2 separate regions of the Homo sapiens genome follow, and region 1 is linked to region 2. The links come from fine-mapping of genetic effects on gene expression. Tissue or cell type: unexposed skin. Region 2 holds a variant in brackets; the other region holds the start of a gene. All regions are shown on one strand. Distances are between the middles of the regions.

The links. PIP is the estimated chance that this variant, and not a neighbour inherited with it, causes the effect. A credible set is the group of variants that fine-mapping cannot tell apart.
Region 1: PLA2G15 starts here. The variant in region 2 is the best candidate, but not a certain one, in a credible set for the expression of PLA2G15 in unexposed skin (GTEx, PIP 0.52).

What each region holds. Positions count from the first base shown.
Region 1 is chr16:68,242,905-68,248,275 of GRCh38, reverse strand. PLA2G15 (phospholipase A2 group XV) reads right to left here and starts at 2,903. Exons shown (of 6, transcript NM_012320.4): 1 at 2,723-2,903. The coding sequence starts at 2,849. RefSeq lists enhancers at 1,937-2,437, 3,559-4,097 and a silencer at 2,854-3,083.
Region 2 is chr16:68,276,267-68,281,637 of GRCh38, reverse strand. The region is part of intron 3 of SLC7A6 (solute carrier family 7 member 6); the gene reads right to left. Among named protein-coding and RNA genes, the nearest start is that of SLC7A6, 14 kb to the right of the region's middle. The variant A/G (reference allele first, on the strand shown) is at 3,072.

The DNA.
Region 1 (5,371 bases), 33 kb after region 2:
CTGGGCCACTCAGCTAAAATTCAACCAGACAAAGTATGCAGGACAGGCTGGTGGGAGGGAAATGAACAGAAACACAGCTGAGAGAAGCTTACATTGGCACCCGCCAGCCTACCAAGGGCCCAGGCCTTACTAAAGGCCAGAGTCCAGTAAGGTGCCAGAGAGCAGATCATCTGGAGGGCCCTAGCATGGCTGGGAGCCCGTATTGGAAACAGCCACCCTGAACCAGCACCATTATCACCACAGTCCAGGCCCTAGGGTGACTTCTCTCCATCCCAGCCATCCTATTCAGTGTACTCAGAACTCTGGGGCCCTGGTGACACCCAAATCCCTCCCCACTGCGTCAAAGCCCTTCACAGTCTCGTTACTCCCATTGACCTTTCGGGCCTCACCTGCCCCCACATGCCATGCTCTCGCCACTTCCCAAACACATCCCCGTTTAGGGTCCATGATCATTGAGTGAAAAACCAGCACTTGGCTCTCCTGGACATTCACTGGGAACTGACCGTAAATCCACCCTGAACAGGGCGTGCCCTCCCTGGGCACCATCCCAGTGTCTTCAGGGTGCCATGAGAGGCAGGGGCGGCACATGCCTTCACCTCCCTTCATGGTATGGGTGCAGAGGGAGGGAGTCCCTGTCATGACAGCCTCTGGATGACATGCCTGTGGACTGGGCAGGGCAGGGCAGAGACCCTGGTCACTGTCTCTACCAAAGGGGAAATGGTAAAAGAGGAAGTCACCAGATCTGCTTTGCTCAGATGCTCCTTACCCTGGTCAGGCTGTGTGGCCCCTAAAAATAGCAGTGGCCACTTCCTGAGCCCATCTGCGCCTGGAACTAGGAAAAGAGCCATCCACATGCCTTTCACCTCAAGTAACACTGGGAGGGGACAGCCTTACTATTTCCACTTAACAGATGGGGAGACTGAGGCTGCAAGAGGTGGAAATGGCCTTGCCTATGGTCCCTTCCCCTTGCCCAGGGTCTTCTGTATCACATCGCTGGTCTCTCTTTCCTCCACCACCATTTCAGGATCCACCCCTAGAGGATTCTGATCTTCTGACAGTCAAGGTCAGATCCCTGCTCTGTGCCCAGGAGCTGCTTATCCAACTGCCCACCGTGAGGTCTCCCAGGGCTAAGGCCAGCAGCCTCACTCCCTGAGAAGCTGGGCATGTTAGGACTCCTGCTGCTCTGTGATTCTGGGTGGGGTCTGAGGCTCTTCTGCTGTGACCAAGGATAAACAGACTGACTGAATTGATGAGTGCGGTTAGCATCAATCCAGGCAAAATGGCTATGTGCCATTTTGTGTGCCACAGACCACATGCTTCCTAATGCCACGCCCCTCAGACTTAGAACTCTGCAGGCCAACCCAGGACTCCCTGAGGCCCTCAAGATAAAGTTCAGATGACCCAACCAGTCACAAGTCCTGTGCAGTCCACTCCTCCTGTGACTCGATCCCAGGCAGCCTGAGATGCTCACGTCTCTCCCCGACCCATTACTCTCTCCTGGCCTTAGCTCCAGCTATATACTCCAGGAAGCCTTACTTGACACCCACCCATCCAGGCTGGGTTGGTGGATTCTCTGTGCTTGCCCCACACAGACTTCCTCTCTGGGGATCACTGTTATTCCTATCCTGCAAGCTTTGGGGAGGCAGGGCCAAGTCTGCCCAAATCCCATGGTGAACCTGGGCCTAGTATCCCCCTGGAGCTTTTCCTGGCTGGGAACTCCTGGTGGGGCCTGCCTGGCACCACCCTACCTGCCAACTCTACCCTTCTGTGATTTGCATCGTCCCCATTTAAAGTACTCTCAGCAGAAAGAGCATGGAGATCATGCTGCACTAGACTCCACGTGTAATTCATGCCTCAGATGCCTCTGCTTTCAGGAATCCTGGCTGGCCACGGACACACCAGCTCTGGATGGGAGTGACGGCCTCAATGAGGCACCCAAGGCCCCCCAGACAGAGGTCTCATCCCTGCCCATCCCTGCAAGGAAATACAGTGGCCGTTGTAGAGTTGCCAGGGTTGTGATCAAGGAGCGGGGTGAGCAGGGGAGGTCACCGAGCCTCCACATAGTCTAGTCCAAGCATGTGTGGCAGGGTAAGAGTACAAGCATGTTGCCTGACACAGGTTCATGGCCATTGTCCCAACCCTTTCCCCTGACTTCAGTTGTCTTCAGTTTCCCTTAGGCCTTTTCCCTCAGGCAATGCCACACATCTGATAAGTTGTGGGAGTTGGTGGCCAGCTAGGACAGCAATCCTTTCCCTAAGGAGGTTCCTTTCAGCAATGCCTTCTGGCATATGTGGCATTGGAGGGGTCGAGGGTGACAGCCTCCTAACCAGGCCCAGGTCGATGCAGAAGTCAACTCAGGAGCCACTCTACACACCCCCACCATCCCTCAGGAGTGGGGCTGAAGCACCTGTCTTTCCAGCTTAAAAATGGGATAAGGGGAGGCAAGGCTTGGGAATGATGCGGACAGGTGGAACTATGAATAACCAGATGGTAACTCTCCCACTCACCCCCATTTTCTACCAGGACAGGAGGTGGGGAGCTGACCACACCCGCGCCCAGCATGGCGGGAGGTGAGCCGGCAGATCTAGATCACCTAAGTGACAAGACAGATACCAATACGCTCCCCCATTTCGTGACTGGAACAGAAGCAGACCGGGAAGGCAGCCCCGCCCGCGGCCCGTCCCGCCCGACCGACAGATCCACCACGAGACCCGTGCCTCACCCAGCACCACTGGGGGGTGACGTCCGGCCGGGAGCGCTGGGTCCGCGAGCAGCATTAGCAGCAGCAAGAGGAACAGGAGGCCATCCGGGAGCAGCCCCACACGGTAGGGGCGGAGGTGGAGGCCCATGGTGTACGACGGTCGCCGCAGGTCCGGGATGCAGGTTCAGCTCTCTGGGCTCTCGCCTAGGCGGGGGCGGTGGCGACGCGCTTAACCCCGCCGCCCGCATCCCCCGCATCCCCCCGGCCAATCAGGGCCCGCCTCCCGCAAATGGCTGGCCAATAGGGACTCGCCGCCATATACGCCCCTCCCAGTCGGAGGTCGCCGCCCCGCCCTTGCCCAACCCCCTGCTTCCTGGACCACGCTGAGCGCCGAGCGCATCGATGGATCGAGGTATCGCCTGGCTCCGGGCTGTCAGTCGCCCACCCGGGAACCCAGCTCGCCGCTGCTGTACCCCGCCCAGCCCTGGGTACCCGAAATCCACGCTGCGCAGCTCTCACTTGGCGACCCCCTGACCTGGAGGATCTGGAACGGACAAGACCGGGAGAGGATAAGGGGTGCAGCGCTGGCCGCTGCTGAGCGACCCCGGTTAAAGCAAGAAGAGAGGAAGTGAGTCCCGGACAGTTCTTGGGCCTCAGGTGACCAGGAGCTGACCAGGACCTTTGTGCAGCCCCCACACCAATTCTTAGCACACCCTGCCCCGAGGGCACCTGGGTGCGGCCAGTCAGCCCCTGTAACTCTGCCCCGGGGTTACAGATGCGGGGGGAACCGGGAGAGGCCAGGTCAGCATGTTCAGTTCCCAAGAGAGGGGTTAATCTGTTCGTTTTAGGGGCGCAGAGTGCAGCGTCACCCCGCCAGTCCGGGCAGTTCGGGCGCGGGGTTGGGAGTGGGCTTGAGTCTCGACCCTGCGCCATGGGCCATCTGCAAGTTCCCCTGCAGAGCAGGAGAGGCATCGGGAGCTCGTGGTCCCCCTCCACTCTCGCAAACCTGGGGAACCAGAGAGGACATGGACTCCCTGCGCCAGGAAGCAGGGGCGAACAGAGTGGGCAAAGACCTGACAGCTGGTTATATGCCAGCACCATAGGTCACTGTGGGATAGAGGGACGAGAGTATTTGGGAAATAGAGGTCTTGATCCTCCACACACCCACCCCTTCGAAGGGGCAGCTGCACCCTGGTCATCCCACCTGGTCCCAAGAAATTTGTCCTGCCCCTTCCTTCCTTCTTCTTGGTAAGCAGCTGACCTGGCTATGAAGCCACTATCTTGCCCTGCCCTTCTCGAGTTCTTATAGTGAAACATGTTGGTGACTGGGCTACCACCACCCTCCCTCTTTCTTTTTTCTTTTTCTTTTTCTTTTTTTTTTTTTTTTTGAGACAGAGTTTCGCTCTTGTTGCCCAGGCTGGAGTGCAATGGTGCAATCTTGGCTCACCGTAACCTCCGTCTCCCGGATTCAAGCAATTCTCCTGCCTCAGCCTCCCGAGTAGCTGGGATTGCAGGCATGCGCCACCACCCTGGCTAATTTTGTATTTTTAGTAGAGACGGGGTTTCTCCATGTTAGTCAGGCTGGTCTTGAACTCCCAACCTCAGGTGATCCACCTGCCTCGGCCTCCCAAAGTGCTGGGATTACAGGCGTGAGCTACTGTGCCCGGCCCCTTTTTCTTTTCTTTCCTTTTTTTTTTTTTTTTTTTTTTTTTTTTGAGAAAGGGTCTCTCTGTCACCCAAGTGCAGTAGCACAATCACGGCTCACTGCATCCTTGACCTCTCAGGCTCAAGCAATCCTTCCCACCTCAGCCTCCTGAGTAGCTGGGACTACAAGTGTACACCTCCAAGCTCAGCTAGTTTTTTATTTTTTGTAGAGTTGGGGTCTCACTATGTTGCCCAGGCCAGTCTTGAACTCCTGGCCTTAAGTGATCCACCTGCCTCAGCCTCCCAAAGTGCTGAGATTACAGATGTGTGCCACTGTGACCAGCCCCACCCTCTCTTAAGGTCCAGCCATCTCCCGCTAAGGCCCTGGCTCAGAACTCCCACTCCCAAAGCCCCTGCCTCCCCCACCTTCACCCGTGACCCAACAGAAGATCAGTGAAGACCCATCTGGTGAAAACCCAGCGTGGGAGACCAGAGACTCTTCTGCAGGCCTAGGGACGGGCAGAAGTCCAGTCAAAGGTTATGTGGAGGAAGAGAAGGATCAAGAGGTGCTGGGCCACCTTGGACTCTGGCCACAGTCTAAATGTCTTGCCAGCCCAGCAGCATCCGGTGACCATGGGCCCCTGGAAGGGTAGCCCTGTCCTCAAGAGGGGTTCCTTGGTGCTTCAACCCCACAGGCCCTGCATGTGTTAGGAACCACAGCCATTAGGGGCAGGATGGCAAGGCCTGGTCAGCAATGACCCATGCTGGCACTGTGGAGAAGGGTCAGAAAGTGAGGGTCCTCCCTTTTCACAATGACTCTGCCATCCACCTGATCCCCCAGGCTGCAGACTTGGCATCATCCTGAGCTCTGGATGCTTCCATGCTTCTCAGAACCACAACTCAGGTGGTCATAAGGGCTTGCCAGCTCTACACTCCCCAAACCACACTACCCTATTCCCACAACAGCCTCGTCACTGATGTCCCAATGCACGCCCTCGTTCCTGTGGGTCGTTCTCCACATGCCAG
Region 2 (5,371 bases):
CCAACATTTCTCCCCATTAGTCCCACAAGTGAGTATGAGCCCCTAAACTTACTGAGTTCAGTCAGCAGCCTGTGGCCCTGCCTCACCACATAAGATTCCAAAACCCCAGAACACATATGAACAGAGTGCACCCTTAAGACAGAGTTTCTCAACCTCAGCACTATTGACATTTTAGGCCAAGTAAGTCTTTATTGTGAGAAGCTGTTCTGTGCATGGTGGTATGTTCAGCAGCACCCCGACCTCTACCATTAGAAGCAAAAAGCACCCCCTTCCAGGAGTTGTGACAACCAAAAGTGTCTCCAGATATTGCTAAATGTCTCCTGGAAGATAAACTCCCCTCTGGCTGAGAACCACTGTTCTAGGATAATTAGTAGGTAAAATAAAATAGCCTGAAATCTGCAAAAAGCTGCTTGGATCTCCTTGCCAGTATAACCTGGGAAGGGGATGGGGTACAGCCAGAAAGCCAGGATCTGAAAGTGCAGTGCCTTCAGAGGCCAGGAAAGTAATATGAGTGAGCAAAGGCAAGAAAGTCTGGGGATAATACAAGAAGTGGAGGACTACAGTGGACTGGGGAGTCCATACTCCATTTAAAAGGAGCCACAGCCGGCTGGGCGCCGTGGGTCACGCCTGTAATCCCAGCACTTTGGGAGGCCGAGGTGGGCGGATCACGAGGTCAGGACATCAAGACCATCCTGGCTAACATGGTGAAACCCCATCTCCACTAAAAATACAAAAAATTAGCCAGGCGTGGTGGCAGGCACCTGTTGTCCCAGCACTCAGGAGGCTGACGCAGGAGAATGGCGTGAACCTGGGAGGCGGAGCTTGCAGTGAGCCGAGATCGCGCCACTGCACTCCAGCCTGGGTGACAGAGCAAGACTCTGTCTCAAAAAAAAAAAAGGAGCCAGAGCCCTCCACAGAGGCTCATGCCTGTAATCCCAACACTTGGAGAGGCTGAGGCAGGAGCATCACTTGAGCCAGGAGTTTGAGACCAGCCTGGGCAACATAGGGATACTCCTTTTAAATAAACAAAAAAGAAATTTTTTTTTTTTTTAAAGAAGCTACGACTACTGAAATCCAGCTTATTTTATCGGGCAGGAATTTGGGTCCAATGATGCCTGAACTTTTGATTTTTCAAGAGAAAAGGCAAGTCCTGATTTTCAAATGTTGGCAACTAATTCAAAATTATTTACAACACCACAAACCAAACAAATCTATCTCTGGGGCCCAAGTCTGGCTCACGGGCCACCAGCTGGCAGCCTCTGCCCTAGAGTTGGTTATATACAGACTTCCTGGGCCCTCCCTTCTAGGATGGAAGTGTCTAGAATGGCGTGGCTATAACTTGTTTAGGCAGTCTCCCAACCAACAAGCCGGACCCCTCTCATGCCTCAATTTCAAGACCAACTTAATTCTCCTATCCTACCGAAGTCTTACCCTAGATTCAGTGCAGACCTTTCATTTCTTTCCCCTAAATAACCTAATTGGTTTCGTGCAATTTATGTCTCCTGAAACCACGTTGTTCCCACTGCCGCCTCTACTCAAGGAGACTCAGCATATCCTAGCTCTGTTGAAAGCCTGATACTGCAACCTAAGTTCCAAGAAGGGAAGTAAGCTGAACCCTAAAGCCTACCCTAGTCGGAAGAGAATATGGTTTTATGACTTGGCCACTACTATGACAAGCAAGTTCTTGCCCTCAGGCCTAGATTCTGGAAAAGCCAGTGCTTCTAGGATAGAAAGCCTGCAGGAATTCAGATCCCGAGGAATCTGGATGAAAGTACATGTTGAATGAAAGAGGCTGGCGGGCCCACACTTACAGGCTCACACCTATGATCCCAGCACTCTGGGAGGCCAAGGTGGGCAGATCACTTGAGCTCAGGAGTTCGAGACCAGTATGGCCAATATGGTAAAACCGCATCTCTACTAAAAATATAAAAATTAGCCAGGCATGGTAGCTTGCACCTGTAATCCCAGCTACTTGGGAGGCTGAGGCAGGAGAATCACTTGAACCTGGGAGGTGGAGGTTGCAGTGAGCCAAGATTGAGCCACTGCCCTCCAGCCTGGGCAACAAAGCAAGACTCTGTCTCAAAAAATAAAAATAAAAGAGAAAATCGAGGCAGCAATTAGTTAACTCCCCAAGATCAACAGTTGGTCAATGATAAAGCTGAAAATTAAATCCAGTCTGGCATGGAGGCCTGCAATCCTAACCACTATACTATACTGCCTGGAGATTGCTTATGTATCTTCAAACCATGTTTTCTAAGAGTATTTGATGAAAGAGATTAAATATGAAATTTTTTTTGAGACAAAGTCTCATTCTGTCACCTAGGCTGGAGTGCAGTGGCATGATCATAGCTCACTGCAACCTTGAATTTCTGGGCTCAAGGGATCCTCCCTCCTCAGGCTCCCGAGTAGCTAGGATTACAGATGCACACCACTGCCACTGCCACCATGCCTAATTTTTTTTTTTTTTAGAGGTGGGGTCTTGCTTTGTTGCCCAGGCTGGTCTCAAACTCCTGTGCTCAAGTGATCCTCCCTCCTCAGCCTCCCAAAGTGCTGGAATTACAAAAGCCATGAGCTACCATGCCCAGCCAATATTAATTTTTTTTTTAATTTTATAAAGCAGTCAGCCGCCCCATCCAGGAGGGAGGTGGGGGGCAGCCCCTGCCCGGCCAGCCGCCCTGTCCGGGAGGGAGGTGGGGGGCGCCTCCGCCCGGCAGCCGCCCTGTCCGGGAGGTGGGGGGCGCCTCTGCCCGGCCGCCCCTTCTGGGAAGTGAGGAGCCCCTCTGCCCGGCCGCCACCCCGTCTGGGAGGTGTACCCAACAGCTCATTGAGAGCGGGCCATGATGACGATGGCGGTTTTGTCGAATAGAAAAGGGGGAAATGTGGGGAAAAGATAGCGAAATCAGATTGTTGCTATGTCTGTGTAGAAAGAAGTAGACATAGGAGACTCCATTTTGTTCTGTACTAAGAAAAATTCTTCTGCCTTGGGATGCTGTTGATCTATGACCTTACCCCCAACCCGGTGCTCTCTGAAACATGTGCTGTGTCCACTCAGGGTTAAATGGATTAAGGGC[A/G]GTGCAAGATGTGCTTTGTTAAACAGATGCTTGAAGGCAGCATGCTCGTTAAGAGTCATCACCACTCCCTAATCTCAAGTACCCAGGGACACAAACACTGCAAAAAAAAAAAAAGGCCGCAGGGTCCTCTGCCTAGGAAAACCAGAGACCTTTGTTCACTTGTTTATCTGCTGACCTTCCCTCCACTATTGTCCTATGACCCTGCCAAATCCCCCTCTGCGAGAAACACCCAAGAATGATCAATAAAAAAAAAAAAAAAATTATAAAGCAGTATACAACCTACAAGAAAAGATGACCTCAAAAGGTATTTATGGCTGGGCATGGTGGCTCATGCCTGTAATCCCAGCACTTTGGGAGGCCAAAGCAGGCGGATCACGAGGTCAAGAGATCAAGACCATCCTGACCAACATGGTGAAACCCCGTCTGTACTAAAAATACAAAAATTAGCTGGGCATGGTGGTGCGCACCTATATTCCCAGCTACTCGGGAGGCTGAGGCAGGAGAATCTCTTGAACCCGGGAGGTGGAGGATGCAGTGAGCCAGAGGTTGCAGTGAGCAGAGATCGAGCCACTGTACTCCAGCCTAGGCGACAGAGCAAGACTCGGTCTCAAAAAAGAAAAATAATAATAATAATAATAATAGGCCAGGCATGGGGGCTCACACCTATAATCCCAGCACTTTGGGAGGCCGGGTGGGCAGATCACCTGAGGTCAGGAGTTCAAGACCAGCCTGACCAACATGGAGAAACCCTGTCTCTACTAAAAATACAAAATTAGCCAGGTGTGGTGGCACATGCCTGAAATCCCAGCTATTCGGGAGGCTGAGTCAGGAGAATCGCTTGAACCCAGGAGGCCGAGGTTGCGATGAGCTGAGATAATGCCATTGCACTCTAGCCTGGGCAGCAAGAGCGAAACTCCATCTCAAAAAAAATTTTTTTTAATTAAAAAATAATACAAGGCCGGGCGCCGTGGCTCACACCTGTAATCCCAGCACTTTGGGAGGCCGAGGCGGGCGGATCACGAGGTCAGGACATCGAGACCATCCTGGCTAACACGGTGAAACCCCATCTCTACTAAAAATACAAAAAATTAGCCGGGCACGGTGGCGGGCGCCTACTGTAGTCCGGGCTACTCGGGAGGCTGAGGCAGGAGAATGGTGTGAGTCGAGATAGCGCCACTGCATTCCAGCCTGGGCGACAGAGCAAGACTCCGTCTCAAATAAATAAATAAATAAATAAATAAATAAATAAAAGTACTCTTCTCGACCAGCTTGACCAACATGGTGAAACCCCCTCTCTACTAAAAATACAAAAATTAGCTGGGCGTGGTGGTGGGCGCCTGTAATCCTGGCTACTCGGGAGGCTGAGGCAAGAGAATCATTTGAACCCAGGAGGCAGAGGTTGCAGTGAGCTGAGATCATGCCATTGTACTCCAGCCTGGGTGACAGAGCAAGACTCTATCTCAAAAAAAAAAGTACTCTTCTTTTGGTGGTAGATTTTGGATGACTTAAGAGTAATTTAATTTTCTAAATAAACATGCTTTGTGAGGTTTTTTTTTTGTTTTGTTTTGTTTGGAGACAGGGTCTTGCTCCGTTACCCAGGCTGGAGTGCAGTGGCGTGATCATAGCTCACTGCAGCCTCGACTTCCCGGGCTCAAGAGATCCTCCCATCTCAGCCTCCTGAATTGCTGGGACCACAGGCACACACCAACATGCCCAGCTAATTTGATTTTTTGTAGAGACAGGGTCTCACCATGTTGCCCAGGTTGGTCTCAAATTCCTGAGCTCAAGCAATCCTCCTACCTCAGCCTCCCAAAGTGCTGGGATTACAGGCGTCAGCCACCATGCCTGGCCTAATAAACATATTTTATAATCAGAAAATTATTCCCTTTTTTAGAAAGCTCAGTCAGACCAGAGTCTCCCTAGCCAAAGCCTATCAGACATACAGCTGAGCAGCCGCCTTCCCTAATCCTAAGGGTATCCGTTTCCCCCTCACTATCCCAAGGAATATGGAGCGTTTTCCCTTTAATTTGTCTTTAACAAATTCCATAAAGTCAAGAGGCATGGGTATTCTACAGTCCTTTATTGCTAACTCCAAGGTACTCTCAGGCTATTTTTAACACTGGATAAACTGCATATACTGCCAATGCTTTTGCAAGCAGAGATGTGGAAAGAACAGAATATTATTAAGTACCTCTGGCAGTACAGTGCTAAGGAACATAGAATTCTGGGTCTTTCTCATTTAAAACACTAGTTCTGCAAGGCTGGGTAAATTCACAGCAATCTTTTCTCCTTACTACCCC